6 separate regions of the Homo sapiens genome follow, and all the other regions are reported to be linked to region 5. The links are microRNA targets in miRTarBase. Many come from high-throughput screens and were not tested one by one. Region 5 holds a microRNA gene; each other region holds the end of a gene's coding sequence.
Evidence for each region. Region 5 holds the annotated microRNA hsa-miR-7150 (CUGGCAGGGGGAGAGGUA, at 1,757-1,774, shown strand). A microRNA usually pairs through its seed, bases 2 to 8, with sites in the 3' UTR of a target mRNA and lowers its output. Matches are read on the target gene's strand: a 7mer-m8 pairs with bases 2 to 8, a 7mer-A1 pairs with bases 2 to 7 and ends in A, and an 8mer does both.

Region 1: miRTarBase lists PFN1 as a target of hsa-miR-7150. Seed matches in the 3' UTR shown: 7mer-A1 at 3,666-3,672.
Region 2: the mRNA of SIRPG is a reported target of hsa-miR-7150. Seed matches in the 3' UTR shown: 7mer-m8 at 1,559-1,565.
Region 3: the mRNA of MCM5 is a reported target of hsa-miR-7150. Seed matches in the 3' UTR shown: 7mer-m8 at 2,097-2,103.
Region 4: the mRNA of CDNF is a reported target of hsa-miR-7150. The part of its 3' UTR that is shown has no 7-base or 8-base seed match.
Region 6: the mRNA of SLC18B1 is a reported target of hsa-miR-7150. Seed matches in the 3' UTR shown: 7mer-m8 at 1,718-1,724.

The regions. Positions count from the first base shown.
Region 1 is chr17:4,942,118-4,947,394 of GRCh38, forward strand. PFN1 (profilin 1) reads right to left here. Exons shown (of 3, transcript NM_005022.4): 2 at 4,511-4,703; 3 at 3,535-3,880. The coding sequence ends at 3,783. It overlaps RNF167 (ring finger protein 167), which reads left to right. Exons shown (of 10, transcript NM_015528.3): 4 at 224-349; 5 at 460-547; 6 at 734-824; 7 at 1,062-1,167; 8 at 1,309-1,402; 9 at 2,441-2,521; 10 at 2,598-3,105. The coding sequence ends at 2,899. Among named protein-coding and RNA genes, the nearest start is that of PFN1, 3.8 kb to the right of the region's middle. RefSeq lists enhancers at 2,095-2,638, 2,273-2,322, 3,193-3,242, 3,253-3,342, 3,403-3,572 and 1 more.
Region 2 is chr20:1,625,903-1,631,179 of GRCh38, reverse strand. It overlaps SIRPG (signal regulatory protein gamma), which reads left to right. Exons shown (of 6, transcript NM_018556.4): 5 at 874-958; 6 at 1,544-2,028. The coding sequence ends at 956. Among named protein-coding and RNA genes, the nearest start is that of SIRPG-AS1, 5.0 kb to the left of the region's middle.
Region 3 is chr22:35,422,217-35,427,467 of GRCh38, forward strand. It overlaps MCM5 (minichromosome maintenance complex component 5), which reads left to right. Exons shown (of 17, transcript NM_006739.4): 16 at 998-1,125; 17 at 1,938-3,215. The coding sequence ends at 2,039. Among named protein-coding and RNA genes, the nearest start is that of MCM5, 25 kb to the left of the region's middle. RefSeq lists enhancers at 3,626-4,131, 4,132-4,639, 4,640-5,145.
Region 4 is chr10:14,815,534-14,820,810 of GRCh38, reverse strand. It overlaps CDNF (cerebral dopamine neurotrophic factor), which reads left to right. Exons shown (of 4, transcript NM_001029954.3): 4 at 653-1,566. The coding sequence ends at 831. Among named protein-coding and RNA genes, the nearest start is that of CDNF, 20 kb to the left of the region's middle.
Region 5 is chr9:123,482,081-123,487,357 of GRCh38, reverse strand. MIR7150 (microRNA 7150) reads left to right here and starts at 1,736; the gene lies at 1,736-1,829. The region is part of intron 13 of DENND1A (DENN domain containing 1A); the gene reads left to right. RefSeq lists an enhancer at 4,175-5,040.
Region 6 is chr6:132,766,176-132,771,452 of GRCh38, reverse strand. It overlaps SLC18B1 (solute carrier family 18 member B1), which reads left to right. Exons shown (of 14, transcript NM_052831.3): 12 at 324-417; 13 at 514-563; 14 at 1,117-2,083. The coding sequence ends at 1,183. Among named protein-coding and RNA genes, the nearest start is that of VNN2, 11 kb to the right of the region's middle. RefSeq lists an enhancer at 3,088-3,247.

The DNA of each region.
Region 1 (5,277 bases), not on the chromosome of region 5:
GAGAGGGATGATGGGAGAGTTTGGTGAAGGGATGTTTTATGTCATTGCCTTTTCAAGAGGCTAAGAGAAGGTTGTGATGGTGGGATGCTCACTCAGACCCCAGGAAGGAGGAGGAAGTGAGGATAGAGGATGTGCAGCATGTGGGCTGGTGTGTTTGGTGGCCCCTGTAGAGAGCAGAATCTAGAAAGGAGAAATCTCACTGTTGTTTGCTTCCATCCTTCAGGGGTTCCTTGTGGAGGCTCACCCAGACAATGCCTGCAGCCCCATTGCCCCACCACCCCCAGCCCCGGTCAATGGGTCAGTCTTTATTGCGCTGCTTCGAAGATTCGACTGCAACTTTGACCTCAAGGTTGCTGAATGAGGAAGGGGAGCTGGGCAGCTGAGGGTAAAAAAAAGGCACCAGGAATGAAGACAGGTAAGGCCCATGATGGCTCCTTGTCCTCTGCCTTGTCTCCCTAGGTCCTAAATGCCCAGAAGGCTGGATATGGTGCCGCTGTAGTACACAATGTGAATTCCAATGAACTTCTGAACATGGTGTGGAATAGTGGTAAGGCTGGGGGAATCTATACAGCTGGGCTTTCAGTAGGACCCAGAGATGGTGGGAAGGCTGAAGGCCTCAGGAAAAGAAGCCAATCCTTTAGGTGGGGTGGGGCCAAAGTGCAAGATGCCAGGGTTCCCAGAGGATTTGAGTAGAAGGTTGTGAGTCCCCAGAGTAACACCTTGATCCCTGCAGAGGAAATCCAGCAGCAGATCTGGATCCCGTCTGTATTTATTGGGGAGAGAAGCTCCGAGTACCTGCGTGCCCTCTTTGTCTACGAGAAGGGGTAGGACATGTGCCTCCTTCCCATTCTTCCTTCAGCAAGCAGTTCCATGCCAACCTGGAGCCCAGGCCTCCTCATTACCCGAACCATTCAGCCTCCTGTCCTTCCTTCCCTGCCTCTTTGACTTTCTTCCCATTCCTGTCCCCACCTATGGGCTTTGTCCAGAGCCAGTTACTTTGTCCCTCTTTTTTTCTCCCTTTGCCTTTCTCGCCCTGCTGAGACTGGTCATCCTTTTCCCAGGGCTCGGGTGCTTCTGGTTCCAGACAATACCTTCCCCTTGGGCTATTACCTCATCCCTTTCACAGGGATTGTGGGACTGCTGGTTTTGGCCATGGGAGCAGTAATGGTGAGTAGCTGAGGGAACATGATGGGAAGCACTGAGGCCTGTGAGGCCAGACTGGATCTGGAGTTGGGAGATGGGAGTGGCTTGTCCTAGATTGTCTAGTTTTGTTCCTAAGCCTTGTCCATCCACCCCCGCTTCCCCCAGATAGCTCGTTGTATCCAGCACCGGAAACGGCTCCAGCGGAATCGACTTACCAAAGAGCAACTGAAACAGATTCCTACACATGACTATCAGAAGGGTGAGGGGGTTAGGGGAGAAGAGGGCTTTTCCCACAGTTTACCTGGTTCTGAAGGACTTTGAGCCCAGAAGATAGGGTATACAAAGATGGCAGTGGCCGGGCACAGTGGCTCACGTAATCCCAAGTGCCTCTAATCCCAGTACTTTGGGAGGCCAAGGTGGGCAGGTCACTTGAGCCCAGGAGTTTGAGACCAGCCTGGGTGACATGATAAAACAGAAAAGTCCCAGCACTTTAGGAGGCTGAGGCAAGTGGATCCCTTGACCCCGGGAGTTCAGGCCAGCCTGGGCAATGTGGTGAGACCCCATCTCTATAAAAAAATAAAATTAGCTGGGCATGGTGGTGTGCACTTGTAGTCCCAGCTAATTGGGAGACTGAGACAGGAGAATCACTTGAACCAGGAAGGCGGAGGTTGTCGGGGGCTGAGATTGCACCACTGTGCTCCAGCCTGGGCGACAGAGGGAGTCCCTTTCTCAAAAAAATAATAATAAAAATAAAGATGGCAGTAGGAAGGTTTCAGCTTGAGATGCTGTCTTTTCTTCTGTTTTTATGCATAAATACAACGAAGACGGGAGAGGAGATGGAAAGCAAAGATGATTAAGTGAAATAATTGTGGGAAACAATAGAGGGATAGACTTTGCTTATAGGGGATGTGGACAGAGCAGAAAAATGGGAGGAATGGGGAGGATTCAGTTAGAGAAGGAAGAAACCGGTACCAAGGGGCTGGGGCTTTAGGCCCTGGGGCCTCCAGTGCCCGTATAAGGCTGTGGCAGAAGCCCTGCCCATTTCCGTTCCTTCCACTCCCTATCTCCACCCTCACACCTCCCCAAAAACCCACTTCCCTTCTTACCTCTGCTTCTCTTTGCTTGTCCCTTCTAGCCCTAAATTCTTCCATGTTCTGCCCTGACCTTATCCTGCCTACCTGTCTTATCTCTTCCACTGGCTTTGTAGGTGAGGGGAAATTTTTGCAAGGCTTTAAAAGCCTTAGCCCTGGGTCATTGTGGCTCAGTGAAGGACTAGATTATTTTCTTTCTGTCCCAGGAGACCAGTATGATGTCTGTGCCATTTGCCTGGATGAATATGAGGATGGGGACAAGCTGCGGGTACTCCCCTGTGCTCATGGTGAGGCCCTCACTGCCTGCCCATGCCCCTCTGCCACCAGCAGCCACCAGGTGCTTCACCTTGTTCCTCTCTGCAGCCTACCACAGCCGCTGCGTGGACCCCTGGCTCACTCAGACCCGGAAGACCTGCCCCATTTGCAAGCAGCCTGTTCATCGGGGTCCTGGGGACGAAGACCAAGAGGAAGAAACTCAAGGGCAAGAGGAGGGTGATGAAGGGGAGCCAAGGGACCACCCTGCCTCAGAAAGGACCCCACTTTTGGGTTCTAGCCCCACTCTTCCCACCTCCTTTGGTTCCTTAGCCCCAGCTCCCCTTGTTTTTCCTGGGCCTTCAACAGATCCCCCACTGTCCCCTCCCTCTTCCCCTGTTATCCTGGTCTAATAACCCCCCACACATACACCTCTGGTGACCTATTTGCACAGACCGTCGTCTTCCCTCCAGTCTTCTGAGGGATAGGGGACATTCCATCCCAAGCTTCTCCCTTACCCACACCTATCCTTTTGAGGGGCTTTGGGGTGGAGCTGGGGCAAGCAGAGGGACTGGGTCTTCACTTCTTGGGCTAATAAAATTGTTTCTTTGTGGACTAAGGAAGGGTAAGATCATTCTCACACAGGTGAACTTAACCCTTTGGTGGAATCACCCCTTTAGCCATAAGGAGCAAGGGAATGCTGAGAGACACTAACCTATAGTCATGGGGACAGCCCCAGCCGGCATTTGCTATGACTCAGAAGGGGGAGCCCCACCCACAAGGATGACTCAACTAGCCCTGCCTTGCCTGCAGGCCTGCACCCATTCTCTGGTCCAGATGGCTCTATTCCATCATCCACCAATTTGACCAGCACACTGAGGACTTAGGCCTGGAAATGCCACTGTGGAGGGGCAGGGCCACCTGGCCAGAAGCTCAAATTCCTGCACCTTGTAGTACCTCAACCTCCCTGCTCCCAAGCCACGATAAAGGAGGCAAGTCACAGTGCCTATCCCCCATTCTGACACCCAAGCTCAAATCACACAGCACCTTGTTAGTAGAATCTTTTTTATTCAGAAAAAAAAAACCCCAAAAAACAAAAGTTTTCCAACCACACACGGGAGGGATATGGGTAGGGGGAGGTGTCTGTCCATCCAGCCCTGGCCCCCAGCCCATGTGGTTTTGGCAGCAATAAGGGGTATGGGGTAATGGCCCAAAAAATAAAATGGTTTGTGTGTGTATGGGGAGGAAAGGGGTGCAAAGCTGTGGGGAGCGGTGAAGGGGAAGGGACAGACGAGGTCAGTACTGGGAACGCCGAAGGTGGGAGGCCATTTCATAACATTTCTTGTTGATCAAACCACCGTGGACACCTTCTTTGCCCATCAGCAGGACTAGCGCTGGAGGAGGAGGAAAGAGAAAGGAGGCTAGGATCCAGGTGTCACAATTCCACCCCCTGCCAGCTGTTCAGCAGCTGTCCAGCCCTGGGGGCTGTAACCCAACCTCATCTCTCCCAACCCGCCCCCCCACCACACACAGGCAGGCTGTCAGTCACCCTGAAACAATAAGGCTTTTCAAAAGAGGAAAATCAAGCTTAAACGCTGGAGAGGAACAGACTAAAAACTTAGGGGTCAAAGGCTCATAGACTGTTGATTCATGTGTTCAGGCTAGAAAGGGCTGTGGATGTGCATGCCACCTCCAGGTTCTAACAAAAGAACTCAAACGATGAACTCGATGATTCAAGACCCCAACAATCTACCTATACTCCTAGAAAACAGTTTCTAATCCGAGCTCAAGGCAGTAAGTAATTTAAGAGGTAATGCAGTTCAGCAACTTCGAATTACAAGATGAGGAACTGAGACAGAATGGAGGGACTATCCCGTGTTCCAGCATCCAGCAGACAAGGAACACAATACTGGTCTGACTCCCTTCATGTTGGGGAATCACACAAAAAAGCACCCTCAAGATTACCAGAAGGCGGTACATTAGAGATCTTGGAGCTAAAGGAAGGGTAAGACTCAGGAACTCACTCTTGTCAGTCTTGGTGACAGTGACATTGAAGGTGGGGGCCCCACCGGTGCTCTTGGTACGAAGATCCATGCTAAATTCCCCATCCTGCAGCAGTGAGTCCCGGATCACCGAACATTTCTGGCCCCCAAGTGTCAGCCCATTCACGTAAAAACTTGACCGGTCTTTGCCAACCAGGACACCCACCTCAGCTGGCTGGAAGAGGAACCAAGCGCCCATCAAGTTAGTCAGTGCACCAAGATTCCCACCGTGTTCTCCAAAGACCCACCTGTCTTCCACTTCTGAGAACCACCCCGCCGTGGGGGCTAAGTATAAATTATATACTCAGTACACATCAATGAACTGTGAGAAACTCTGAGGACTGTGGGACGTTAGTGCAGAAAAAGATCATGATTCTGAAACTTAGAATATGGAACCAGGGAGGAAGGGATGACATACTCCTCTAGAGATTTAGATGTCAGTGTTAATGGGGAAAGTAAACCCAGGAAATAAAGGGAGTCAGTGAGGTAAGTGAGGAGCCTTTGGATGCTCAGAACTCTCCTTCAGGAAAAGCAGAAGCGGAGAGGGGAAGGGAGGGGGGCGGGCGAGGCAAGAGAAGCAACTTTGCCCTTATTTGGTCAAAGGTTCTGCAGGAGCTGTTAGGGCCCGGACGCCTGGGTCTCCAAGTAACCTAGAGTTTAGCTCCAGGTATCTCTGCTCTGAGATGAGGAAGCAGACCCCTGGGGGCTTTCCGGGAAAGTTGGAAAACTTTTGAAGGTGGACAGGGGCC
Region 2 (5,277 bases), not on the chromosome of region 5:
TTTAAAATATACTGTAATATCTTTAATGGCCCAAACTGCTCGCGTTAAAAATGTTGATTTTAAAAGCCTGAACTGCTCATGTTAAAAATGCAGCGTCCAAACATGTGCTTCCCCGTAACTGAGTGTGCCCAACTAACAGAAAGATTTCAGATGACACCTGCACTGGGGTGGAGGTGGCCTAGGTGACATCTGAGGCCCTCCCAAGCATGAGACCCATTTCCGTGACTCACCAGGATGTTTTCTAGCCGGAAGGTTTCATTATGTCCAGTGTTCCATGGCTCCTCCAAGTTCTGAGAACACGGAGTCCTCCCCTTACTTCTGGGGCTAAGCAGGGAACCTGCAACTCTCATTGTGAAGCCATCCTCAAGCCACCTGCCTACCCTTTTATAGTCATTAAAATGTCCCTAGGAATTTGGACTTGTTTTGTTCCAAAGGACATGGTCTCAGGGATCAACCTAAGGAACACTAGTGATGAGCTTCTTTAGGTTTGAATGCAAGTAACCTTGTGACCCTCCCTAAAATCCATGGGCCTCAGTTTCCCTAGCAGAATGGAATGACAATCCCTGCTCCCATAGGCTTGTGAGGGTCAAGTGAGGAACCCCGTTGCCACATGTATGAATACCTGAGTACACACCCCCTCCACCTCTTCCCTCCAGGAGAATAAGCTGGCAACCTGGGACAGGATGAGTGAGAATGGGGAGCCTCTTTCTGTGGCTTCTGCCTTGTGCTGGAGTGAAGATAGCCTGGGCAGGATGCAGGTTCAAAGGTGGGGCATAGATGGGCCCAGGCAGCCTCAGATGGGGTAAGTGGAGGCCCCTACAATGGCCTCCCAAGTGGTCTCTCTCATAGCCCCTCGTCTTCCCTGATTTCCAGGCCCGGCATCATCCCTTACTGCGCTGCTCCTCATAGCTGTCCTCCTGGGCCCCATCTACGTCCCCTGGAAGCAGAAGACCTGACTGTAAGTACAAGGAAGGGAGGACAGACCAAGGGCTGTCTCAGAAGGGCAAGGCCAACAGGAAGGCCCAGCCCACATGCCATGCAGCACCAGGGTCCGTGGAGTTAAGCTCCCTCCGCACCCTCGGAAGTCTTGGGGAACCCTTTAAAAGGCTCCCAACCCACAGAAATTATGTGGGTGGTGTACAATGTGGGATGCTTGAAATGTGTTCAAAGATGTCCACAGTGCCCTAGGAGTTTCATGGAGGCAGTGATGAGTGGGTGGTCCCTTGCAGGCTATCTGTAGATTATTTGAATGCTGGGACTCCATGGGGTCAGAGAAATCCACATTGTAAACTAATGTTGAGAAACCCAAATGGGAAGCCCTGAAGGCTGTTTGTGCTCTGACCCTCTGTGTGTCTGAGTGGAAGGAATATTGGAAAGGGCATCAGGACTTGGCAGGATGGCTGAGCAGGCAGAGTTCTATCAGGACTGCCTGTCCACCAGTGACAGGTATCCCAGGAGACCAGCCCCGAGAACATAACAGACTCTCAGGAAACATGTCTTGAAAGATGAGCAGATGACTAAGTGTGGATGTGTTTTCCTACAGCTCCTTCCTTCCTCCCCTGCCACGTGGGACCCTCATCTCTGCTGCCTCCTTCCTTTCCTGAGAGGCTCAGCTTGAGAGAATGAGCCAGTGAGAAGCTTCTCTAGACTTGGCTCCAAACATCTCCCCTCCCAAGACATCTGCCTGCCCACAGGCTCCTGTTGCTCCTTCACACAGACCTGGATGCCCCAGAGCAAGGTCTTCATTCATGGTCCTGAGCAGGTGCCATGGGATTGGGCTCTGGGCACTGACTTAACGGCACCTCCCTAGAAGGCGAGAAACATGCCAAATCTAAACACACCAGGACTCCCATCCATCGCCTTGAGACTGACCGTAAACCACAGACGCTCTCCAGGTTCTCAAGAGTTATCCTGCCTTCCAGATTCCTGCCTATCCCAACTCCCCAGCCTTGTTGAGGTTCTCTATTGCCTCTTGAATACAAATGCACTCCCAAAGTGGTTTTAAGAAAATAAAAAGATTATCCTTCCTCTTTGTCTAAGGGTCCTACTCCTCACACTCAGAAACAAAGAAGCTCTCCCTGCTCTCTCTGTGATGGGAACACTAGTTCTAGCATCCTGCAGGCTTCCCCGCCCTGCTGCTCATGGCGGAAATGCTGCCGCAGTCCAAAAGCCTCCTTGACTCCCGAATCCTCCCTGATGTCTCTTTACACCCCATATTCAATTCTGCCTTCAAAATACTTATGTCCACTCGTGAGATGGTAAGTGTTTAAAAATGGACTCTCTTAAAGGAAAAAAAAAGCTGATTTGTTGTACTTGACAATTTCTGTGGTATAATCACCCCCAACATGGCCAGTTTCAAGCTACCAGAAGTTTAACAACTGGATTGCAAAATTCCTGAAACTTAACGGTTGGCTTTCAGGGGCCAGTCCAAGCCTGCTGCAGGAGAGCACTGAGTTACATCCCTAACCTGCACACTTCTCACCTCCATCACCCCTCCCTGTCCCGGCCAGCATCATCTCTTCCGGGAACACTTCTGTAGCCTCTGTTGGCTTTCATTTTTCAGCTACAGGGATTTTTGGAAAAGTCAAATTGTATCACTCCTCTGCTTCTTCCCCAACACAGCTGCATGGCTCCCTTCATCCCTCCTTCAAGCCTCTGCTCAATGTCACTTTATTAAAGGCACCTTTGGCAAACCACCCTGTACATAATATCAATTCTCCTGTCTACCCTGGCATTCTAATTTCTCTTATCTTGATTAATTTTTATTTAGCATTTATTACCATAAGCATTATAACGAATACAGGCAGCCCTCGCTTTTCACAGCAGTGCAAGATTGCAAGAATGACTGTGCAGCCGGAAACCCAGGAAAGCAATCTCCACATCCAATCAGAAAAACAATGATCATATTGTGACCTTTACAATTTTTTGTCAAAATATAGGAAACTCTCATAGTGTCAGTTACAAATGTAGAAGGCAATAAAAAATAATAAATGAATATTTATTAGTACCCTGTAATTCAAAACATTGGAAACATCAAGTGTTTCAGTATTTTATTTCTTTGTAAAAATGTTTCAAGAGTAGTTGGAAGAGTGCTTACCTCCTTCTTGTACACTTCGGATATGGAGCAAACATCCTTTCTATCTGGGTGTTTTATCACCTTCCTCTCTAAGTTTGGATTTGTTTCCAGCACCTTATCATTTGCACTTTCAGTGTCGTGAAATCTCTGCAAAAGTTCCTTTCACGTGAAGATTTTTGCTGTTGTCACATCCTCAGGGACACCTTCGCCCTATTTGTCAGTACCCCATCCCGTATCTGTTAAATTCACCTTCTCTAAGTCCTGCGGGCTGCCTATCTGAAGTTTTTCAAACACTACCAGGGTCTACGTTGCCTCACCAGCTATTCATGCTTCTATAACTCCACTGACATACAATTTGAACTTTATCTCCAGCATTTTCACTGCTCATTTATTCACTGCATTTTCACTGTGGTTGTCCAATCTCTCTTTCAATTATTTGTTTCCCAAAAATGTCACATGGGCTCATCACCAGTTACATGAGGTTGCAGTCTTATGTGAGCCTGTGCCCCTGGCCTGTGGACTTCACAAGTGCCTCTCAGTTTTTTCCCCTATGGTGGGACAGGATGGCCAGAGGGGGCTGGAGTTGGGTGCTTGCCTTCCCCAGGTAGGTTAGGCTCTGATCAAAGCCCAGCAGATTAGGCACTGGTAAAATAGTTTCTCCTGAGAGCTGGGCTTGGTAAGAAGAAAGAATGCTCTGGTGTAGTTCAGAATGATTCGCTTTCCCCTCCACACCCCCCAGGAAGCACAAGTGAATGTTTCTCTCATATTCACTCTGAGCACCTAATCAAGCTCCTGGAGGTAAATCTCACAACAGTGTTGGAGTTCCCTGCGATTGGGTCCTGCTGGAATCTGTTCCTCAGACTGGCCCACACCAAGCCTCTAGCAATTCTTCAATTACAGTGCAGGTTTTCCTACCCTGGCACTGGTTCCCATGGAGGTTTTGGCTTCAGGAAGTTGTAATTCTCTATATCATTTTGTCTAACTTCCAGTTTTGGAGACAATGGTCTGCTCTGTGACCTCATTTCTCTGACAGACCTGAGAAGAGTTGCCATTTCTTATTTGCTCAGCTTGTTACTTGATGTTGGCCCTAGGGACTTTTTGCAGGGGACATCCAGGAGTTTTGGTTCCATCCTTAAAGGCTGCTACAGTAACAAGACCTCAAACTTTCCACACCCAGAATTACAGTCTCTGAAAATCCAAACTCAGTCCTTAGCTACAGGGCCCTGTGGATCAGGGCTGTCAACTGAGGAAGGGCCAAGGGAACCCTGGCATGAAGTGAGTGCCCCTGGGACAGAGAGCAGGCCCAGAGCAGTCAAACTGTCTCCACTACTGTCCAAGGCTCCCAGGCGTGGGAACCCCAAGGTGGATATCAGCAACTTCCCAGGGGTGGCAACTCTGCCTGCTTCCTCTTTTACTATGAGACCATGCCAGTCTCGTGGCCTTTTCCTTCCACAGCAAATTCCCTCCTCAGATATCATGGCAGGTGGGGCTTCTCCTTCCCTGCAGAGCTCAGAGGCTGGGGTCTCTCCGTGATAAACTTTCAACAGAGCAGGCAATGACCATACCTGTCTTCCAGCCCACCTGGACAACCCTTGCCTCTTTATGCTATTGGGACTCACAGGTGAGAGCAGCCTGTTCTACACAGGTGTATTTATATGTAAGTCTCCTCACCCTCTCAGCCCATCTCACCCGTATCTATGGATTTCCATTTGGGAACATTTTCTTCTCTCCCATCCCAGCAGGAGACAAGATTTGGAGTACACTTTCCGTGAGCATCTGTGCAGACTCTTACCGGGATTTGCCTTTCTTTAGTCACAGTGATTTCCCGAGGTCATGCTTGTACCATGACCCAGGTGCTAGTAATGACTTCGTGATTATAGGGCTAGACACGTGACCCACACTCATCATGTGGTGGTATCTGCACATCCCCCAGCCATTGGCCAGGGTTGTCGCACTGCATCGTAAATCCTCGAGGACAGAGAGTCTGTTTTTTAAAGGTATTACTATTGCCAAAACACCACCTAATAACAATAACATCTAACTTTTGGAGCACAATCAGCAATTATTAAGGAATTTACATATATTAATCCATTTTATGACCATAACAAACCTCTGAAGTTGATACGATTACTTCCATTTTATATTTGAGAGAACTCAAGAAACAGAGATGTTAAACAGACTCCCCTGGGTCACACAGCTAG
Region 3 (5,251 bases), not on the chromosome of region 5:
GTAGTGTAGGTAGTGAAAAAGGCAGTGAGGGAGATGATGGCAGGGCCAGGTGTGTTGGAAAAGGAGGACGTGCTCTTTCCCATGGAGTGAGTGGGCATGGCCTCTGCAAGGAGGTGATGCCAAGCAGGGAGCTGCATGAAGGGGACAGTGTGGCTCCTTGGGGGAAGAGCTGCTCAGGTGGAGGCAGCGCTAAGTGTCAGTTTCCCCAGGAGGGAGCAGGTTTGGTGCATTTGAATGGGGAGGCACTTGGGTGAGGAATGGGGTGGGTGGGGCCTGTTCCTCCTGTCCCCCTTGGTGAAGACTCAGCCTCTACCCTGGAGACACTTGCTGTCACATGAGACATTGCAGGTGGAGGCCTCTGGGATGCTGCAGGCACAGAGGGCAGGGGTGATATGGAGTGGTGATAATTTGAGTTGGGTCTTATGGGCTATGTAGGAGTTTGCCTCACAGACTCCCCTCTCAATGACTTCTTGACCATGAGCCCACCATCTCCTTAGCTGAAACACCAAGGCCTCTGTGGCAGTAATTGGAAGTCACGAGCCTCCTGGTTGCCGAGGGCTCCTCAGGGCACCTCGTAGATGTGTCCAGGGCAGGCTGGCTTCCCTCCTGGGTCACTGATGGGCCCCTTCCAACTCTCTCTCTAATCTATCTGCTCCAGCAACAAAAGGAGTCCTGCTGTGGCCTCCAAGGGCCCGCAGGACTTGGTCCCTAGTGACACTCTGGCCATGTCTCTGCTGCGCTGGGCCCCGGGCTGCTTTTTGAATGAGACAGGTGTGTTCCTGCCTCTGTGACTTTGTGCTTGGCCTGGAGTGTCCCCACATGTGCCATATCCTGTCTCCTCAATCAGGCCTGCACCACCCTGGCACACTCGGTGCCCTTTTCTGACTTACTCTTCGGGGCCTGGCTCAGGCTGTTCTTCCTTGGGCTAGAGGCTGTCTCTGTCCAAGAACTCCCATTGTCCCAGCTCCCCGGCTGCCTCACTTCTCCATGCCCACAGGGGTGGAGGGCTTCACCAGCCAGGAGGACCAGGAGATGCTGAGCCGCATCGAGAAGCAGCTCAAGCGCCGCTTTGCCATTGGCTCCCAGGTGTCTGAGCACAGCATCATCAAGGACTTCACCAAGCAGGTGAGCCTGCCTTGGAGTGGGGGTGTGAGCCGGCACGGGGTGCAGGTCTTCTGCTGGTTCCCACCCACTCAGCACTGGCATCTTACTCAGCAGACAGGCCCTGAACGGGGGTAGGATGGACAACTGTCCCTTTCTCAGACCTTTTCTAGCCATCATTCCTTCCCTAGGGACATCTTCATCAGGAGCAGGGATGGGGGTATTTTTTCTGTCCCACGAAGGGGAGGGGAGAGCAGAGGTGGTTGGATTCTGGTGAAACCCCATACAAGTTCCCCGCAGCCCTTCCCGTCTGTGCCTTTCCCCGTTGGCGGGCGTTTCATGGAGTGGGAAGGGGCAGAGCCATGAGAGTGAGCTTTCTGGCTCACTGAGGAGGGTACTGTTGGCCCCATAGAGAGAAGATGGGATTTCCCAGATGCTCTGGAAAACCTGTCACCTTTAAAATCTCAGGATTAATCCTAGTTTCTGGTCTCCGCTCCTTGTACATCATCTCATTTTGATTCAGGGCAGTTTAATGGGTGGTATCGTGTCTATTCTATAGGTGCGCAGACTGAGGCTTAGAGAAAGGTTTAGAGCTTCGGTTCTAGAGTCAGATGGGACTTAAGTCCCAGCTCTACCTCTTAATTGCTGTGACCTTGAGCAAGTGGCTTAGCCTCCGTGTGCCTCAGTGTCTGGTACACAGTGGGCACTCAGGAAGTGTGGGCCCTTTAGGTCAAAGGAGCCTGAGTACAAAGTTCCCCGTGAGCCTGGGGATGTCTGGGCTCTGTCGGAGTCCCCTCGGGCAGCACGTGCCGTTAGCCAGCCATGTGCTCCCACAGAAATACCCGGAGCACGCCATCCACAAGGTGCTGCAGCTCATGCTGCGGCGCGGCGAGATCCAGCATCGCATGCAGCGCAAGGTTCTCTACCGCCTCAAGTGAGTCGCGCCGCCTCACTGGACTCATGGACTCGCCCACGCCTCGCCCCTCCTGCCGCTGCCTGCCATTGACAATGTTGCTGGGACCTCTGCCTCCCCACTGCAGCCCTCGAACTTCCCAGGCACCCTCCTTTCTGCCCCAGAGGAAGGAGCTGTAGTGTCCTGCTGCCTCTGGGCGCCCGCCTCTAGCGCGGTTCTGGGAAGTGTGCTTTTGGCATCCGTTAATAATAAAGCCACGGTGTGTTCAGGTATCTGTGGGTTTGTGCACTCGGTGACCTGTCACCTCCATCGTGCCCTCATGGCAGGGTAAGTGTGAGGGAACAGGGTCTGGAGGCAGACTGGCCAGGGTTTCTGACTTGGATCTGCCACTCAGACTTCTGGGTAAGTCACGTGACTTGAGTGCTCCGGTTTCTTCATCTGTTTAGCGGGGCTCATAAAGCCACTCCCTTGATGCTGGGAATCCAGTGAGACCAGGGAGTGGGGAAGCGCTTCTCAAAGTGTGTGATTTTGATCCGCCTCACCTGTTCCCCAGTAACTTATTGGGGGGCTGCGAGCCGTGGTGCGGCGGTCAGACTGCCTGGATTCATGGACCCTCTCCATGCCTTAGTTTCCTTATCTGTAAGCAGGCTGATACTAGAACCTGCTTCACAGGGTTGTGCTTAGGGTCAGTGAGCAGCTGTTAGTGAGGGGAATGTAGTGGCCACCAGGCAGGAACTAGGACTCCAGCCAGTTCTTTCCTGGTGGGCCACGTGTAACTGTGTGGCCTTGGGCGAGACATTTCACTTTTCTGTGCCTGAGTTTATCAGTAAACTGGAGATGGGGGGATTCCTCACCCTGAGTTGTGAGGATTGAATGACAGAAGGCACTAGTGACAGTGATGCTGGAGGAAGGAGTGTTGCCAAGTGCCTCGGTCACTTTGCCTAATTTCAGAAAGTCACTCTGAGTTGGTATGTTTTGTGTTTTTAAAAAAGCTAGGATTCATAAAATTAAATAGAAATCAGTGAAATAAAATATTTGATATTTAAAATACATTTAGAAATACAAAGTGTCAAGCAAAACGTGAATTTGGAAATCTATGGAACATTAGATAAGGTATTTAAAAGTAATTGCCATGTAAAAATGACACGAACTTGAAGTAAGATTATTTGATTTTTCTAAAAATACAAGAAAGCTTGGTGCATCCGCCTGGTCATTGTTGAATCACAAATGTATTTTTGTGCAGAAGATTCCTGCAGCTCAAAGCCCTTTCTGATTCCATACTGTTCGGGGAAATGGAGAGATGAGAGGAGCTAAATCAGCTTTCCTCTGACTCACTCCCGTTCAAAGCTCATTTCTTTTCTGATAATTTTGAGAGTGTCTGGAACAGCTTTTGTTTTCTTGGTGGGGTGGCAACCTTACTGGGCGCGCTGTGGGTTTTGCATCCAAGGCTGCATCTCCGGTTCCTGCTAGCCTTTCATCTTGCTCAGGTGGGGACTCGCGTGCATCTCAGGCCCAAGGTCCTCCCGTCCTGCTTGTTCATGGAGTGTGGAACTCTCATGAGGTTCACCCTGCAGTGGCAACTTTGCTGGTGGCCTTTTCTCCACCCCTGTGGTGGGTGGTGCTGCTGTGGTCACCTCTGTTTTACAGGTGGAGAAACTGAGGCTCAGAGAGTCAAGTGTCACAGTGAGGGAGTGCAGGGCAGGCTTCAAACCTGGTGGCTCCGAACTCCACCCATGTCACCTTTTCTGCCAGATTCTCTCTTGGCAGTCCCTGACCTCGGCCTGAGTGGGATGCTGGGCAGAGACAGTCCTGGCCTGGGGGAGGCAGGTGCCAGTCAGGTGGGGGAGACTGACCCTGGGGTAGGTTCCCAGGGGTAGGTGGCCTGACTGGCAGGCACAGGACTGAGAGGCCAAAGGGGGTCCGACTGGCTTTTCCGTGGTAGTTGGGGTAGGGCTCATAGGAGGAGCAGCTGTGCTCAGAGCATGCCAGTCTCCTTCCAGATCGGGGCAGCAGCATGAAGAGAGGCCCCTGAGCCAGGGAAACACCTGCTTGTTGGGGAAAGCAAAGGCTGAGGAGAGAGCCTGAAGGGAGGCCAGGAGAGGGGAGCATTCAGGCTGAGTAATAGTTGGGGCTCGGCTTAGTGGAATCTCCAGTCAGGCCTCAGTGACACCTAGAGAGGCAGGGAGGTGGGGCAAGGGGGGGAGCTGGATTCCCGAGCTGGTGCTGCCACTCAGGGTGGCTGAGCTCTTCACTCACCTGTGACCTGGCTCCCTTAGGCTTGTCTTCTCAGATCTGTCCCTACCCTCACCAGCTACAGGCCGCGACCCAGCGGACATTTCTCTCTGCTGAGCAAATCACTTCACCCCTCAGCCTCCTTTCATCTGTAGAAAGGGCACAGCAGTACAGTAGCCCTTTCACCCAGGGGTGGCTGTGAGGATTAACTGAGGGGGTAGACATCAGAGCAGCTGGGCCTGGCCCCGGGGAGGTGCTCCCAGGAAGGGCTGGGTGCCTGTGGTTTTCCCTGCCTCACAGCCTCTGCCATCTCGGATTTCACCTTTTCATGCTTTTGTGTGAGCAGAGGCCGAGCCTCTGCTGCTGTGTTCCCTGCCCCACTCTACTCCTGGCTGCATGGGTCTCTCAACTTCGCTCACCACTATGAGAGCCGCTCCACCCCTTCTCCAGTTCCAGGTCTGGGAAGGAGAGAGCAGACAAGCTTGCTCATGATGGAGTCCTTTTACCTGGTTTCTCTCTCTGTTCACAGATACCACCTCTGTTGATCTGGGAACTAAGACCATGTTGCTTGTCCTTAGTCACATATGACTTAATTTGCACCCATTGTGGGCCACTGGTGTCAGACAGGAAGCCTAAGCGCAGGTATCACTGAGGAGGATACACATGCTAACTACACGATCTTCACCAGACCTGTGAGCTTCCAGCCACCAGATCCAAAGTCACAGAGCACAGGGACTTACAAACCCAGTGCTGGAAAACATAGCAAAGGCTATATCCAATTTAGGTTTCTCTTTATTGGAAATAAAGATGGCCCATACTTCAAATATGTTATTTAGAGAATGCTTATAAAGAGCAGCCTAAAGTCCCATTCTCTTGCCTGTAAGCAACAAAATTACAAAAATGTTGAATTTCTAAAATGCGAAAGTTAAGCATTCCAGAGACCAGCTCATGGAAGAAGGTTTTATGTTTTTGGGTGTTGTAACTATTATCCATATGTATTTAAAC
Region 4 (5,277 bases), not on the chromosome of region 5:
TGAGATTTGAGTGGAGACACAAATCCAAACCATATCATTGTAAATAGTTGTTATACTGTATTGTTTGTATTTTTTTTTTGAGACAGAGTCTCAATCTGTTTCCCAGGCTGGAGTGCATGGCGTGATCTCGGCTCACTGCAACCTCCATCTCCCAAGTTCCAGAAATTCTCCCGCCGCAGCCTCCCAAGTAGCTGGGATTACAGGCATGCCACCGCCATGCCCGGCTAATTTTTTGTTTCTTTTTTTAGTAGAGGTGTGGTTTCACCATGTTGGCCAGGCTGGTCTCGAATTCCTGACCTCAGGCAATCCTCCCGCCTCAGCCTCCCAAAGTGCTGAGATTACAGGCATGAGCCACCGTGCCCAGCCCTGTTTGTATTTTTTAATTGTTGTAGTGTTATCTTTAATTTGTTTAGAATATTTTTGATCTGCTGTTGGTTGAATCTGCAGATGCAGAACCCACTGATAGAGAGGGCTGCTGTACCACATTTTCCTTGGGTGTGTCTTGGTTTCCATGGAAACTGGAATTCTTCCCTGCCTTGGATCATAGGGTAGTCAGCACCAAGATAAGCAAACTATATGCCTTTTGAAGTGATTCATAGGGATTTTTTTTCCATTTATTTTGTAATTGGCTTTTTTCCTTTTTGCCATTTAGAAAAAACACTGGACTTGGCATCAGTTGACCTGCGGAAGATGAGAGTGGCAGAGCTGAAGCAGATCCTGCATAGCTGGGGGGAGGAGTGCAGGGCCTGTGCAGAAAAAACTGACTATGTGAATCTCATTCAAGAGCTGGCCCCCAAGTATGCAGCGACACACCCCAAAACAGAGCTCTGATCTCCAATGCCAGCACATTTGTGACTTGTAATTAGAGAGAAAAGTGACTCTCTAGGATATGGACATGTTGATTAAGGATAACTGGGAATGCATCATATTTGGTCTCATGCTTTTTGTGTTGGTATTATTCCTCAGAATTTTGTTACGTGGGTTTATGAGTGAAACTAATACTACTGATAACTTACATTTGCAGTGTACCAAAAGCTAAAAGTTCCTTTCTCATAAGTTTCTTGGAATGACTATGCCAGTTTTCATTGCCTGTCTCCTAAAAGTGACCTACTGACAAATTGATGGAGTAAATTGATTCCAAGAAAGAAGAAGGCATTCAGAGACTCCTCTCTGGATGCAATTTTAAAATATATTGGACTAAAACAAAAGACACAACAGTCAGCTTATCTAATGCACAACTTCAATCCCAAATACAGAATCAAAAGTTTTTTTCAAGTGAATTTTCTGTTTTCACTCTATATTGTAGCTCTCTTTGGTATCAGAAATGGTCAGGCAGGAGTACTCGTTTTTCCCATTGGAAGAAAACCCACTTAAACCTACTTAAAGAAAATAGAGAGATCAAGAAACCGTATAAGTATAGCCAATGTTTGGCAATTATATCAACATTTACATTGTTAATTGAACCAAGCTCAAGGTCTTTTTCATTCCTTACAGTCACATATCAGACAAGTTTTTGATGGAAGATTAAAGCATATTAAAAACACTCATAGGCAACTTGGAACTTTACCATTGTTAATGCTATTTTATCAGCTTTCGGTTGTAAAATCATCTTTGGTTCCATTTTCTGGCCACATAAGAATAAGAAACCCACAGTAGAAGTGTCCGCCTCTGTGTGGCAGGTACAGCTGGGGAATACTGAAAAAACATTTCCTTGGAACTTTCTGGAGTGATGGGAATGTCCTATATCTTGATTGACATGGGGATTACATGGGTTAATAACATTGTCATCTGGTAGGATAATTAAGATCTGGGCATTTTATTGTATGTACATAATATCTTTAAAAACTGCTGTAGAAAAATTATTTGGAAATTAACTAAAATTAATTAATTCAACACACCTTGTTTGCTAGGCACAGTGGCTCACACCTGTAATCCCAGCACTTCAAGAGGCTGAGGCGGGAGGATTGCCTGAGTCTAGGAGTTAGAGATCAGCCTGAGCAACAGAGTGAGGTTCCGTCTCCACCAAAAATTTTAAAATTAGCTGCGCATGATAGTGTGTACCTGTAGTCCCAGCTACTCGGGAGGCTGAGGTGGGAGGACTGCTTGAGCCCAGGAGGTGGAGTCTGTAGTGAGCTGTGATCCTGCCACTGCACTCCAGCCTGGGCAACAGAGCAAGACCCTGCCAGAATATATGAAAAAACAAACAAAAAAGCCCACCTTATTTATTCAAAGAATTGCATTTACTGGCTGGGGTTGTTTTCAGGGAGTGGAGGAGACATTTTCAGACTGAAAATATACATCGAAAACATAATTTTTAATTCTAAATGCTGCAGAGGTAAATGCATTTTCAGCTGGGAAGCTGATATGTCAGAGAGTTAGTGGTTCCTAAGGAAATATATATATGATGTAACTGAAAGGTGAGAATACAAAGCTGTGGTGTAATGAATGGTCAAAGTAATTATTGTTTCTGAATTTTGGCAGCTCGATTATCATTTGTAAAGCATCTACTTTATTTTGAATTATATCTTCAAAAAAACCAAAGTTTGTTTTTGGTTGTTTTTGTTTCTTTGAGACAGTCTCGCTCTGTTGCCCAGGCTGGAATGCAGTGGCACAATCTTAGCTTACTGCAAACTCAGCCTCTTGTGTTCAAGTGATTCTTCTGCCTCACCCTTCCGAGTAGCTGGGATTACAGGCGCCCACCACTATGCCCAGCTAATTTTTTTGTATTTTTAGTAGAGACGGGGTTTTGCCATGTTGGCCAGGCTGGTCTTGAACTCCTGGCCTCAAGCGATCCACCCACCTCAGCCTCCCAAAGTGCTGGGATTACAGGTGTGAGCCACGATGCCCGGCCTCTCCAGAGTTTTCTTTTCTAAACTTCTTATAACCTTTATATCTGTTTTTATTTTTGCATTTTGAACCTATCAAGAAATGTGTTGTTTGAAAATATTATGTTTGGTGTCTGACCTCAAAATCGGGTCGCATTTCTATGTCTTTTCTTCAGGATACAAATTGAGGTAATAGAAACAGTGCTCAGCCAGTCATTTGTATCCATGGTGTTTAGTCTGTTTTTTTTTTTTTTCTTTCTTTTTGGACAGAGTCTCACTCTGTCACCCAGGCTGGTATGCAATGGCGCTATCTCAGTTCACTGCAACCTTTGACTCCCAGGTACAACTGACTCTCCTGCCTTAGCCTCCCCAGTAGCTGGGATTACAGGCGTGCACCACCACACCTGGCTAATTTTTGTATTTTTAGTAGAGATCGGGTTTCACTATGTTGGCCAGGGTGGTCTCAAACTCCTGACCTCAAGCGATCCACCTGCCTCATCCTCCCAAAGTGCTGGGATTACAGGCATGAGCCACTGTGTCCGATCTAGTCTGTTTTTTTGTTTGTTTGTTTGTTTTAAAGAGAATTTACATCAGTGCTTCTCAAACTGCACATATGGTGTTTATCACAGCACAATTCACAATTGCAAAGATATGGAACCAACCTAAGTGCCCATCAACTGGTAAGTGGATAAAGAAAATGTGTTTGGCCGGGCGCAGTGGCTCACGCCTGTAATCCCAGCACTTTGGGAGGCCGAGGCGGGCGGATCACGAGGTCAGGAGATCGAGACCATCCTGGCTAATATGGTGAAACCCTGTCTCTACTAAAGATACAAAAAATTAGCTGGGCGTGGTGGTGGGCGCCTGTAGTCCCAGCTACTCGGGAGGCTGAGGCAAGAGAATGGCGTTAACCCGGGAGGCGGAGCTTGCAGTGAGCTGAGATTGCGCCACTGCACCTCAGCCTGGGCAACAGCGCAAGACTCTGTCTCAAAAAAAAAAAAAAAAAAAGAAAATGTGTTTATGTTATCAGGCATAACAAACATAATACAGCATGGAATACTACTTAGCCATCAAAAAGAACAAAATCATTCTTTTGCAGCAACTTGGATGGAAGTGGAGGCTATTATTCTAAGTGAAGTAACTCAGGAATGGAAGACTAAATCTGTATGTACAAACCTCTATGTTCTCACTTATAAGTGGGAGCTAAGCTATAGGGTAAGCAGAGACATAAAGAGAGGTATAATGGCCATTGGCGATTCAGAAGCAGGGAGAGTGGGAGGAAGGTAAGGGATAAAAAACTACATATTGGGTACAATGTATGCTACCTGGTGACAGGTGAGCCAAAATCTCAAACTTCACCACTGTACAATTCATCCGTGTAACCAAAAACCACTTGTACTCCAAAAGTTATTGAAATAAAAAATAAATAGCTGAAAAGTAAAAACAAAAACTGGGCGTAGAGGCAGTCTTGTTAAAGTAGGGGTTCTGATTCAGTGGGTCTGGGGTGGGGCCTGAGATTCTGCATTGCTAATGAGCTGCCAGGTGATGTCCACACTACCCTTCCAGGACCACGCTTTGAGTAGCAAAGGCCTAGGTCAAGGATCCTGCAACTGATACATACTTTTTTCCCTTTGCCAGTATCAACCTAAATAGTAAACAGAGAAAGGCTCTCTAAAAAAAGATGTTTGTTTTGGGAATAGAGCATTGCAATGGGAATACACAAGCCTTAGTAAACTATGCGTATTCAAGGGAGGTAAAGGAAGACAAAGGTTTTTAAAGATAAAAATGAGGGGCTGGGTGTGGTGGTTCACACCTGTAATCCCAGCACTTTGGGAGGCCAAGGCAGGTGGATCACCTGAGGTCAGGGGGTTCCAGACCAGCCTGGCTACCATGGTGAAACCCCGTCTCTACTAAAAATACAAAAAAATTAGCTGGGCATGGTGGTGCGTGCCTGTAATCTCAGCTATTGGGGGAGACTGAGGCAGGAGAATCGCTTGAACCCGTGAGATGGCGGTTGCAGTGAGCTGAGATCATGCCACTCTACTCCACTCCAGCCTGTGTGACGGAGCAAGACTCTGTCTCAGACAAAAAAAAAAAGAGGAGGATTGCATAATTGTTTTGAAATAATTATCCTTGACCACAAAGATCAATCACAAGAGTGATGCTAGTCTGAGTTTGGACAGATAGTCTCCGGGTCAATGCCCTTGCAGAAGAATTTTCTTGTGTGAAGTTGTGATGGCTTTTGTGGAGGATTATGATTTTTGCAGTCTTTTGTGATTGTTTATGTTATCAGGCATACAAGCCTGAGAACCCTCTTTTCATGGCCTCCCCCAGCTCTGTTTTCAGGGTTTTCTTACCATTTGTGACCCCATTCTGATTCTCATGACTTTCACACCAGTCTTGATCAGTTATGTTTTTGATAGAGTTGAATGTAACAATAACAACAGCAACAACA
Region 5 (5,277 bases):
ACAAACCTGCCAGCTGACTTGGGCCCTAGACTTGGTTAAACCCTGGCTTGCCTTCCCTTGATTGTAGATGGTAGAAGCCCAACTTAAACGAACTTGAGCAAAGAGGATAGGAGGGAGAATTTCTTGGCTTATATAACTGAGACATCCCGGACTTGTCTTGCTACCAGCATGGCTGGATCCAGGAGCTCAAATGATGTCTAGACTCTCAGTGACCTCTGTTTGGCTTTGCTTTTCATTATCTGTTTTATTTTCAAACATTCTCTTGCTTTGCTATAGAAATATGGGGGCCTCTATGGTCCTTCTAGCTTGAAGTGAGTCCCTCTCAACTCCAGTGTCTGTGCAGCAACTCTCAGTGGAGACTGCTCAAGTTAGTGTCGATCACTTCTGGGCTACCCTAAACTCATTGGTGTGACCAGAGGATGGAGTCCTCCAGTCGGCTCCCAGGGTCGCATGCCCACCCCTGTGGCTGGGCAGGGGGTTGGCAGGATCAGTCCCAATGGGAAAAGAGAGTTTTATTACCTATTCCCAGAGGAGTGTAAGAGGCAAATGTGTGGTCAATAGGAGGGTGGAGGGTGCCCAGAAGGTTGGGGGACCATGGAAGGTATGGGAACTAACATATGAGGTGGGGGTGAGGAGTTGGATATCAGGGATGGTTTCACCAAGGTGCTTGCACCAGCACTGGGCTCTAAGGACAAGGAAGATGATGCCAGCACACTCATGCTCAAGGCTTGCTGGCTGGACACATGCCATTTAGTTGGTGCCAACTTTCCAAGAGGCTCCTGTTGGCCATGGCTACAGGTTAGAAGATCAAAGGGGTGCTTTAGGGAGTGGGACTCATGGGGGATGCAGGAGCCAGCTGCTTCCTTCCTGGCCTCCCAGAAGTCTCGGTGTGTATCAAGCTGAGGCAGAAAGATTCCAGGGCTGGGCTAGCAGCTCTGGGGCTGGCGGCAGAGCCCAGAGCCAAGGTGACGCTGTCTGTGAACAGTGCAGAGATGCCCCACAGCGCTGGCATCTAAGAGCACAGTGTTCCGGGGGCGAGTCTCTGTTCCTGTAGCCTTGACCTGGGACACGTTGCCCTCTGACTAGCTCAAGTTCAGGGTGGGGCCTTCATTGGATTTACCTGCCCACTTGCCTGACATTCAGCCTCTCCCCATTTTTACTGAAATTTTAAACGTATTTATGATTGAGCTTCTTTTACAGAGGAGGAAATTAGGGCTCAGAGAGGTTGTGACTTGGCCAAAGCCACAGAACTGAGAAAAGTGACAATGCCAAAATCCATCGATCTCTTCTCTTCCCACCTGCTCCCATGCACCCCACCATGCAGCCAGTGATCTATGGCACCCGGGGTATGCCAGCCACTGAAGATCCAGGGGAATCAACCCCTTGTTCCCAAGTCACAGAGCCCATGGGCCAGGGAGATGGATTCAGAAAATGAAATCTGCTGCAGTGCTAGCTAAATGTTAGCAATGGCTAGAAAATCCAGAAGCCTAGGCATGAGAGTTTAGCCTCCGCATGTGGAGGCCAAAAACAGAGTCTTTGATCCATTCCTTATATCCAGGAAACTTTGTAAAACCAGCACATGCTCCTCAAAGGTGAGTGCAAACTGAGAGCAAAGCGTCTTCTTGGATGCTCAGGCTTCTTTCCCCGGCAGCTGACCCCACACTGCGTGTGTGTGTGTGTGTGTGTGTGTGTGTGTGTGTGCGCGCGCGCGCGTGTGTGTACGCGCACACACACACACGGTGTCCCCTGGTGGAACCTGGCAGGGGGAGAGGTAAGGTCTTTCAGCCTCTCCAAAGCCCATGGTCAGGTACTCAGGTGGGGGAGCCCTGCTCGCAGCCCCGAACCTGATCTGCTGGTGTTCAGCGGAGGAGATTACAGAGCTTAATGATTAGCTCCTCCAAGCTGCAGCTGATGCCAGCCCCTACCCCCTTTACACCTAATTACTCTCATTAATGAGCTCCTCTGCTCTCCATAGAGAGAGTTTCCTCTTTGGAATAAGAGGCAAAAATACCTTGCCCAGGTAGATTGCTGAAGCCTTTAATTATTGCCCACACCTGCTAAGCCTTGTGACTCACACCTAGTGATAGTGCGGAGCTGAAATGGAGCTTGTTTATAATCACGAGCAGATTTTAACTCTTTCAAAGCCAAAAAGCCTTCTGATTTCAAGAGACATGTTTCCCCAAGACCTCACACATGCTCATTTCATGCATGCACGCCAGGCTCTGCTCCCCCAACACTGGGGATCCTGAGGCAGCAGAAGTGCAGCTCCTGCCCTGAGGGAGTGCACAGTCTAGGAAGAGTGACAGGCTAGAAACTACACAGACAATTATAGTGGCTACCACTCACCACTTCCCTACATCAGGTCGCCTGTAGCCCTCGAAATAAAACTTTGAGGCAGATGTTACTACCTCCATGTTACAGAAGAGGGGAGGGGGCGCAGAGGGAGGATGTCACTTGCCCCAGGTGCCACAGCTAGGGAGGGTGTGAGGAGAGTGGGATCAGGTCTGCTGGGCTCCATGGCCAGTGTGCACCCCACTGTTGCCCAGAAGCTCCCTTGCATGCCAGACTGTACTGAGGGCCACAGTGAAGTCACTGCAGGACACGGTGAGGTTAGGAGGAAACAGGACTATGTGAGTAACAACAGAAGGAACAGGAGCAGAGGCTCAGGGGAGAACTGAATGCCTTGTGCATTCGTAGACCTGCAAGCACTCAGTGTGGCTAGAAGGTGCACTATGGGGTGCGGAGCAAGGGGCAACAAGGCAGGAAGGACAGGCAGGGGCCGGGGCAGGGTCCTAAATGCAGGGGAAAGACCCTGGACTTCCTATCCGCTGCACCCTCCCCAGTACCTCACAAAGCACCCAGTACATAGCAGGTCAGTACATGTTGATGAATGGAGGGACAGCCATGCTAAAGGCATGATAACCATTGAAGGATTTAAGCAGGGGAGGGACAGTACCAGAGGGCTGTCTGGAAGAATCTCTGGGCGGCTTACTCTCTGAACACTGAGATTCAAGGGCAAAGTCCTCACCACAGCCCTTTGCCCCAATCGAGAGGTCTGCGCTAGGCTGTCTAGTTGCTCAGTGTTAGAGGTGCGATTAAACCCAGATCTTTGTGTCTGCAAAAACCCAGCTCTGTCTCCTTCACCTTGTGTCCTGCTAGATAGAAGATAATATACTAAATGGCTTAGAACAGAAAGACAAGAGTTTCCCACCATGGCTGCTAGGATTCTGAATGAGAAACTTTCAGGATAGGAGCACAGGTTTCTAAAACACCAGAGCTGCTCAGACATAACCAAGTCCCTCTGACCAGATTTAGACAGATTGTTAGATGAATTGATGTAATATTTAATAGCATGTATGGCATGGCTCCGATGACCAGGAGACACTAACCCGTTTGCTACAAGTCCTAGGAGACTAAAAATCATTTTTAAAAAAACACAAAAAAAACTAAGCTGTGTCTCAAACAAAGAACAACAACCCACAACTGAGTCTCTCTTACACATCTGGCCTTGGGGCAGGTACTTTATGTGAAATCTGTCTGTGCCTCGCAGCAACTCTGGGAGGTAGATGGAATTATCCCCATCTTACAAACGAACTGACCTGTGACTTGGGGAGCTAAAGACTTCCCCACAGTCACATGGATAATGAGCGACAGAGCCAGGAGTCTCAGCCCAGCCTGTCCCACTGCAGAGCCGGAGCCACCCCAGGACACACTGTCCCTCAGAAGCTATCCATCACAAGACATCAGTCACCACACATGGAACCCGGAACAGACCCTGGCAGACTTGGTGTGTGCATGCGTCTGGTCAGCCCAGAGCTGGGGAACCCAGCAAGTGCTAGGCCTGGGAAGCCTGTGTGTTCTGGATAGAGACTGTCTGCACACAGAGGCTGGCCTGCAAGACCCAGGCTTTGCTCTGCTTGGGATTTGTCTCCTGAGTTCCTGGAGGCTGCCATGGTGGGGGTCATCTGGCAGCCAAGGGAGGACTGGAGCAGCAGCGGCGGCATGGCCCCCCAGCATCTCTGGACCACCATCGGCATGCCAGCCCCTGCTCTTGGGGTAGGGATTCCAAGGTACTGAAAACATAGTCCCTGCATGGGGCCTCTGCTGGACTCTTAGGAAGGAGGAGACCCTGGCGAGTACTACCTGGTCCTACTTGCCTCTCCAAAGCACTCAGTGTAGTAGGGGGAGGTGGTCAGTCGGCTAGATCCATCAACTCTTGCATCCAAGTCAACTCTTGTCTCCTAAAGCCTCTCTTGAATTCCTCCCTTTCCATTCCTGCCTGGCAGCTGCCTCAGTGGACACAGTGCTTCCTTGGCAGATCACTGGCCTCACTGAGATCAGAATGATCCTCTTGAAGTGCAAATATCTACACTCCCTTCCCCCAGCCACCCAAATTTTAGGGTTCCCTGTTGCTTTAGGACAACATGACCTAAAAAGACCTGCATGATCCATGCCCAGGCTTGGTTGGAGCCCCTCCCCCTCTGCTGTCCTGTTCCAGCCTCTCTCATTTCCCCTGGCACTCCTCCATCCCACAGAGGCCTGGGGCTTCTGCCCACCTTCCCCTCTGAGCACACAGGTTACTTTCCCAGGAATGCTTTCTGCAGCCTCCAGGTGTCTTCTTGGGACCTTGTTCTTTGTTCTCTGCACAGCAGGAACCTCTGCTTCAAGGCCATTGTCCCAGGGGGTAATTGTTCCTTTATGGGGCTGCTTGACTATCCTCAGGTAGCTGACTGTGATAGCTCCAGGGGCTGATACCCAGTAGGCTCTCAACAACTACTCACTGAATCAGTGAATGAAAGGCAAAAACAGCCACCCTTCCTCACAAATTTGGGAAAGGCTTCCCATAGGCAGAGACCTTTGAGTTGGGTCCTGAGTCCATGTTTGCCAGGCCAAGGGAATGATAGGCAAGAGGTATTTGATTTGACCATGTGTGTGTTTGTGTTAAAAAATAAAGATAATGGGCCGGGTGCGGTGGTTCACGCCTGTAATCCCAACACTTTGGGAGGCTGAGGTAGGCAGATCACTTGAGACTAGGAGTTCAAGACCAGCCTGGCCAACATCACAAAACCCTGACTCTACTAAAAATACAAAAGTTAGCCATTCATGGTGGTGCACACCTGTAATCCTAGCTACTTGGGAGGCTGAGGCACAAGAATCACTTGAACCTGGGAGGCAGAGGTTGCAGTGAACCAAGATCGCGCCACTGCGCTCCAGCCTGGGCAACAGAGCGAGACTCTGTCTGAAAAAGAATAAAGGCCGAGCACTGCCACTCATGCC
Region 6 (5,277 bases), not on the chromosome of region 5:
TTGAATTGAGTTATATTAGTTGCAAATACTGAGAATAGAATAATATAAAGAATTTTTTAAATCTGTTTCATATTTTTTATTTTTATATAAGCCATCAACTTTTCAGAAGCAGTAATAATTTCAAAATTGTTAAAAAATTTTGAATGTCATTATCAGGTAGAATTATTTTCTTTTACTGAATGCTGTGCCCAGGAATTAGCTTTATCTTTAGTACTTATCTTCCAATGTAATGAAGACTTACAATTGAAGGATCATGTAGCTTTTCATGAAGTAATTATTTATTTTTTGCACTATTGAATACTTTTTCTTCTTTCTATTGTTAGTGCTTTTATGGGACCAACGCTGGGTGGATTTCTGTATGAGAAAATTGGTTTTGAATGGGCAGCAGCTATACAAGGTCTATGGGCTCTGATAAGTGTGAGTAATCAGTCTTTTATTTGCATTTTCCTTATATTTGTGGAAAAACTTGACTTGGAAAATTTACATTAATCAGTACTTTTAATTGTGTTTAAGGGATTAGCCATGGGCTTGTTTTATCTACTGGAGTATTCAAGGAGAAAAAGGTATGGTCAATTTTGGGGCTTTTTTTCTCTCTTTAAAAGTTAGCCAGTGCAAGTGGAAAATAAATAACATTTTACATTTATTCTTCCAGTCAGTGGATTTCTAAGCACTCTGAGGCTCATCAGTTGGTAGATACTTTTTTAATTTTTATTTTTTGAGATGGTGTCTTGCTCTGTCACCCAGACTGGCATGCAGTGGCACAATCTCAGCTCACTGCAACTTCTGCCCCCCGGGTTCAAGCGGTTTTCCTGCCTCAGCCTCCCACGTAGCTGAGATTACAGGCATGGGTCACCATGCCCAGTTAATTTTTGTATTTTTAGTAGAGACAGGGTTTCACCATGTTGGCCAGGCTGGTCTCGAACTCCTGACCTCAAGTGATCCGCCTGCCTCTGCCTCCCAAAATGCTGGGATTACAGGCGTGAGCCACCATGCCCGGGCAGTAGAAACTTTTTTAAAAAGATAGTTGGATGGAGATACAGGTACTGGTTTTTTGTTTGTTTGTTTGTTTTTAAGATGAGAAATATTGAGATTCATCTCTTCTTTCCCTCAATGTAGGTCTAAATCTCAAAACATCCTCAGCACAGAGGAGGAACGAACTACTCTCTTGCCTAATGAAACCTAGTCCGATGGATCCTGGATTGATACAAGGTTGAGAAATGAATGCTCCTGGCCTTAAACATCACCGTAGGAAGGGTTTTTAAAATTTTACGCGCAAAACTCCGTGGACCCCGTGCCAGTGTCTTGGAAGTGTCAACGTGTTTTTGGATGATCCTGTATTGGGCTGTACTTACTGTGATACTGAAAAGCTGTCCTGCTGAAGCAGCTATATTTGAAATATTAAGTATGAAAGGAGTAATTAAAAACAAGCAAAACAAAACAAGACTTAGTTTTTAAATGACCAAACTTGTCCTTAAAGATGTTGTTATTAACTCGAGTTAGTTCTTATTTCCTCTGTTTATTTTTTATTCTAAGTACACTGATTCTGTGAATGTACCTTTTTTATTAACAGGGAAAGAAATGAATTAATTTGATATGCTCTAAATACATAAAGGTGCTTCAAAATATGTAGAAACATTACTATGAAATCAGTTTTTAAAAGATATACTTTCTCTTTGTCCTGAGGTTTTTCGGTCTTGTTCAAAAGGAAGAATTCTTGCCTGCCATACAGAAACTCTCTAGCACTCCCTGACCTTAAGCTTTTCTAAAAATTCTGTTTGTGTGAAAAGTACAAGAATAACAATACTTACAACTTCCATTTTTGTAACCTACGTTCACTTATGATCTGGATTTATAAACATTACTTGGTATAACGTTTTTCATTTCCTTTAATGTCTCTGTTTTTTGGCTCTACCATCTGTTTTGTTTTTGTTTTTATCTATATCTTGGTAGATGTATTTCATCCCTAGAGCAGGTCAGCCTCCTTCCCCTAATGCGAATGCTTGTTTTGTTAGGGAAGGGCTTCCTCCAACTTCGTGTGAAATTGTGATGTTGAAGTGAATAAATGTCTATTGTGTAACTCTCATGCTTCTTGGTCTATTTTCATGGTGTAGTAGCCACATTTACAGTAATTTTTTTAAAGAAGAAATGGTTTTATCTATTCATTCAAAAATATCTTTTGAATGTCTTCTCTGAGCTGACACTATGCCAGATGCTAGGGATTTGGCTGTGATCAAGATAAACACAATCTCTGCTTTTATGTAACTTATACTGGTGGAAGAGACGAACAATAAATAAATATCAGACTCTCCAATTATCTTACAGAAATGCTAAGAAGGAAAAAAAAACATGGTGATGTGATAGAGTAGTTGGCTGGGTTTGTTTAGATATGGGTGCCTAATTTGAAAAAGTCCATGGAAGTGCGACCTTTGAGTTGAGATCTAAAGGAAGAGGATGTAACCACCATTCATTCTGACAGGGGACAGTCCGTAGTATGTGCACAAGGGCTTGACATGGTCAAAGATGAGGTTTGGTCTGCTGGCTGGAGTCTAGTAAACTGGAGGCGATGCCAGAATCTGATTCACATTTCAGAAAGTCCATTCTGTCTGCATGTGGACAGTGAGTGGGGATAGGGACGGTAAAGGGAATGGAGGGGGAGCTTTGGAAGATTTGAGAGAGACAATAATGGTTTGGACCAGGGAGCTTGTGATGGAGAGAAAAGGCTCTATCTGGGAGTGGAACCAACAGAACTTGCTGATGTGGAGGGAGGAGAGGGGAATCTAGGAGGACTCCTAGGTTTTGGCTTGAGGGTGTGGGTGGATGGTGGTGACTCTTAGTGAATTGGGGAATAGGAGCAAAACGGATCCTGAAGTGGCAAAAGTTCAAGCCACCATGGGATGTCATTGCACACCACCAAAACCAAAAATATGGAAAAGGAGGACAATACCCAGGGTAGGAGAGGATGGCTTTGGAAGACTGCCTGGCATTGAGTGTCAAGACTGGATGTACATCTGTCTTGTGATCTCTTCATTTCCCTATCCCCTCAAACCTTTCACTCTTGAACCTCCAGAGGGCGATCCAATGTCTGAGGAGGACAAATGGCCTGCAATTCCCTTCCCGGAGCAGTGCCAGGACAGAGTGTGACCCTGGCCCCCTGCACCCATGTGGCATGCAGATCTGGGCCTTGATTGCCTTAAGTCATCCTGGCCCCCTCCAGGACTTTTTTGACCTTCATGTCCACCCACGCAAGGACAGCCGCCCTTCCTCAGCCCGGTGGTCTTGGATGCGGCTGAGTGCCTGCAGTCCCTGCCACTGTCACTTGGGGCCACTATTAAAGCATGAGTCTGCAGCTTGCACCTTCCTACCCACTATCTGGGCCAGCCTATTCTGTTACCAGCACAGTTGATTGTTGAGAATTCAAAGTCAACGCAAGGATTCGAGGCTCTCTGGGGAGAGAACTTCCTTCATCCCCATTCCCAACACACGGCTCTCAATACTTCCCTTGGATAGCAGTGTATTTAAAGATGCTATGTACAAAACCAAATTTACTCCTTTCTCATTTTGAAATTTTGCAAGTATTAAGATAAGTGGGCCGGGAGCAGTGGCTCACGCCTGTAACCCCAGTACTTTGGGAGGCTGAGGTGGATGGATCACGAGGCCAAGAGATCAAGACCATCTTGGTGAAACTCCATCTCTACTAAAAATACAAAAGTTAGCTGGGCATGGTGGTGTGCGCCTATAGTCCCAGCTACTTGGGAGGCTTAGGCAGGAGAATTGCTTGAACCCGGGAGAAGGAGGTTGCAGTGAGCCGAAATTGCGCCACTGCACTCCACCCTGGTGACAGAGCAAGACTCCGTCTCAAAAAAAAAAAAAAAAAAAAAAGTCACAGAAAAGTTTAAAAAATATGAGAAAAGACAGAGGAAAGAACACTTTGAACAAGAAAACCAAAAGGTAGGTCAAAACTATCAAAGGAAATCTCTGTGTATGTGTTTGTATTTTTATATATTTATAGTCTTCTAAATGTAACAAGGCTGAGCAGCTTAAAAGAACCTTTTTAATAATGAGAATATTCTATATAACTGAATGTGGAATATGTTAGTAATAAAAGGAATCTTTTATGTTAAGATCATATTGCAACCTATACATTATAATATGATACATAAATCAATCCAAAGGAAAACTAAAAAGGTTAAATACAAATCACAGATCATTTTTAAAAATTAAACTTTAAAAATTTTGAGATAATTGTTAATTCACATGCAGTTGTAAGAAATAATAGAAAAAGATCATGAGTATTCTTTCCCTGGTTTTCACCAATGATAACATCTTGCAGAACTATAGTACAATAGCACAACCAGGATACAGAACATTCCCATCGCCACATTCTTCACGTTGTCTTTTTGTAGCTACACCCACTTCCCTCCCATCTTCACTTCTGGCAGCCACTAATCTCTTCTCCATTTCTATCATCTGGTCATTTCAAGAAACGTATAAATGAAATCGTATTGTATGAAACTTTTTGGATTGGCTTTTTTCAGTCAGCATAATGCCCTTGAGTTCTATTGGCATTGTTGCATGTATCAATAGTTCAGTTCTTTAAATTGCTGAGTAGTATTCCATTGGGTGGCTTTAAGACACAATGGAATACTACTTTATTTGTTACAAATAAAGCAGCTATGAACTTTCAGAAACAGGTTTTTTGTTTGTTTGTTTGTTTGTTTTTGCCAGGGGCGAGGGTAGAGGGTGGGATATGAAGCATAAGACTTCACTTCTCTGGAATAAATGCCCAGCAATACAACTGCTGAGTTGCGTGATAATTGCATGATTAGTTTGTTTTCAACTAACTCATTTATTTTAGATAAGAAACTTGATTTTGACAATAAATATTAAATATCACGCATTAATGAAATATCTGGTCAGCCATGGTGGCTCATGCCTATAATCCCAGCACTTTGGGAGGCCGAGGTGGGCGGATCACCTGAAGTCAGGAGTTCAGGACCAGCCTGGCAAACATGGTGAAACTCCATCTCTACAAAAAAATACAAAAATTAGCCGGGCATGGTAATGCCAGCTACTCAGGAGGCTGAGGCAGGAGAATCGCTTGAACCTGGGAGACGGAGGTTCCAGTGAGTTGAGATCACGCCACTACACTCCAGCCTGGGTGACAGAGCAAGACTCTGTCTCAAAATAAATAAATAAATAAATAAATAAATAAATAAGAAATATCCTATTTACTTATTTGTTTAATGATCAAGATTTAAATACGTCACAGATACCCTC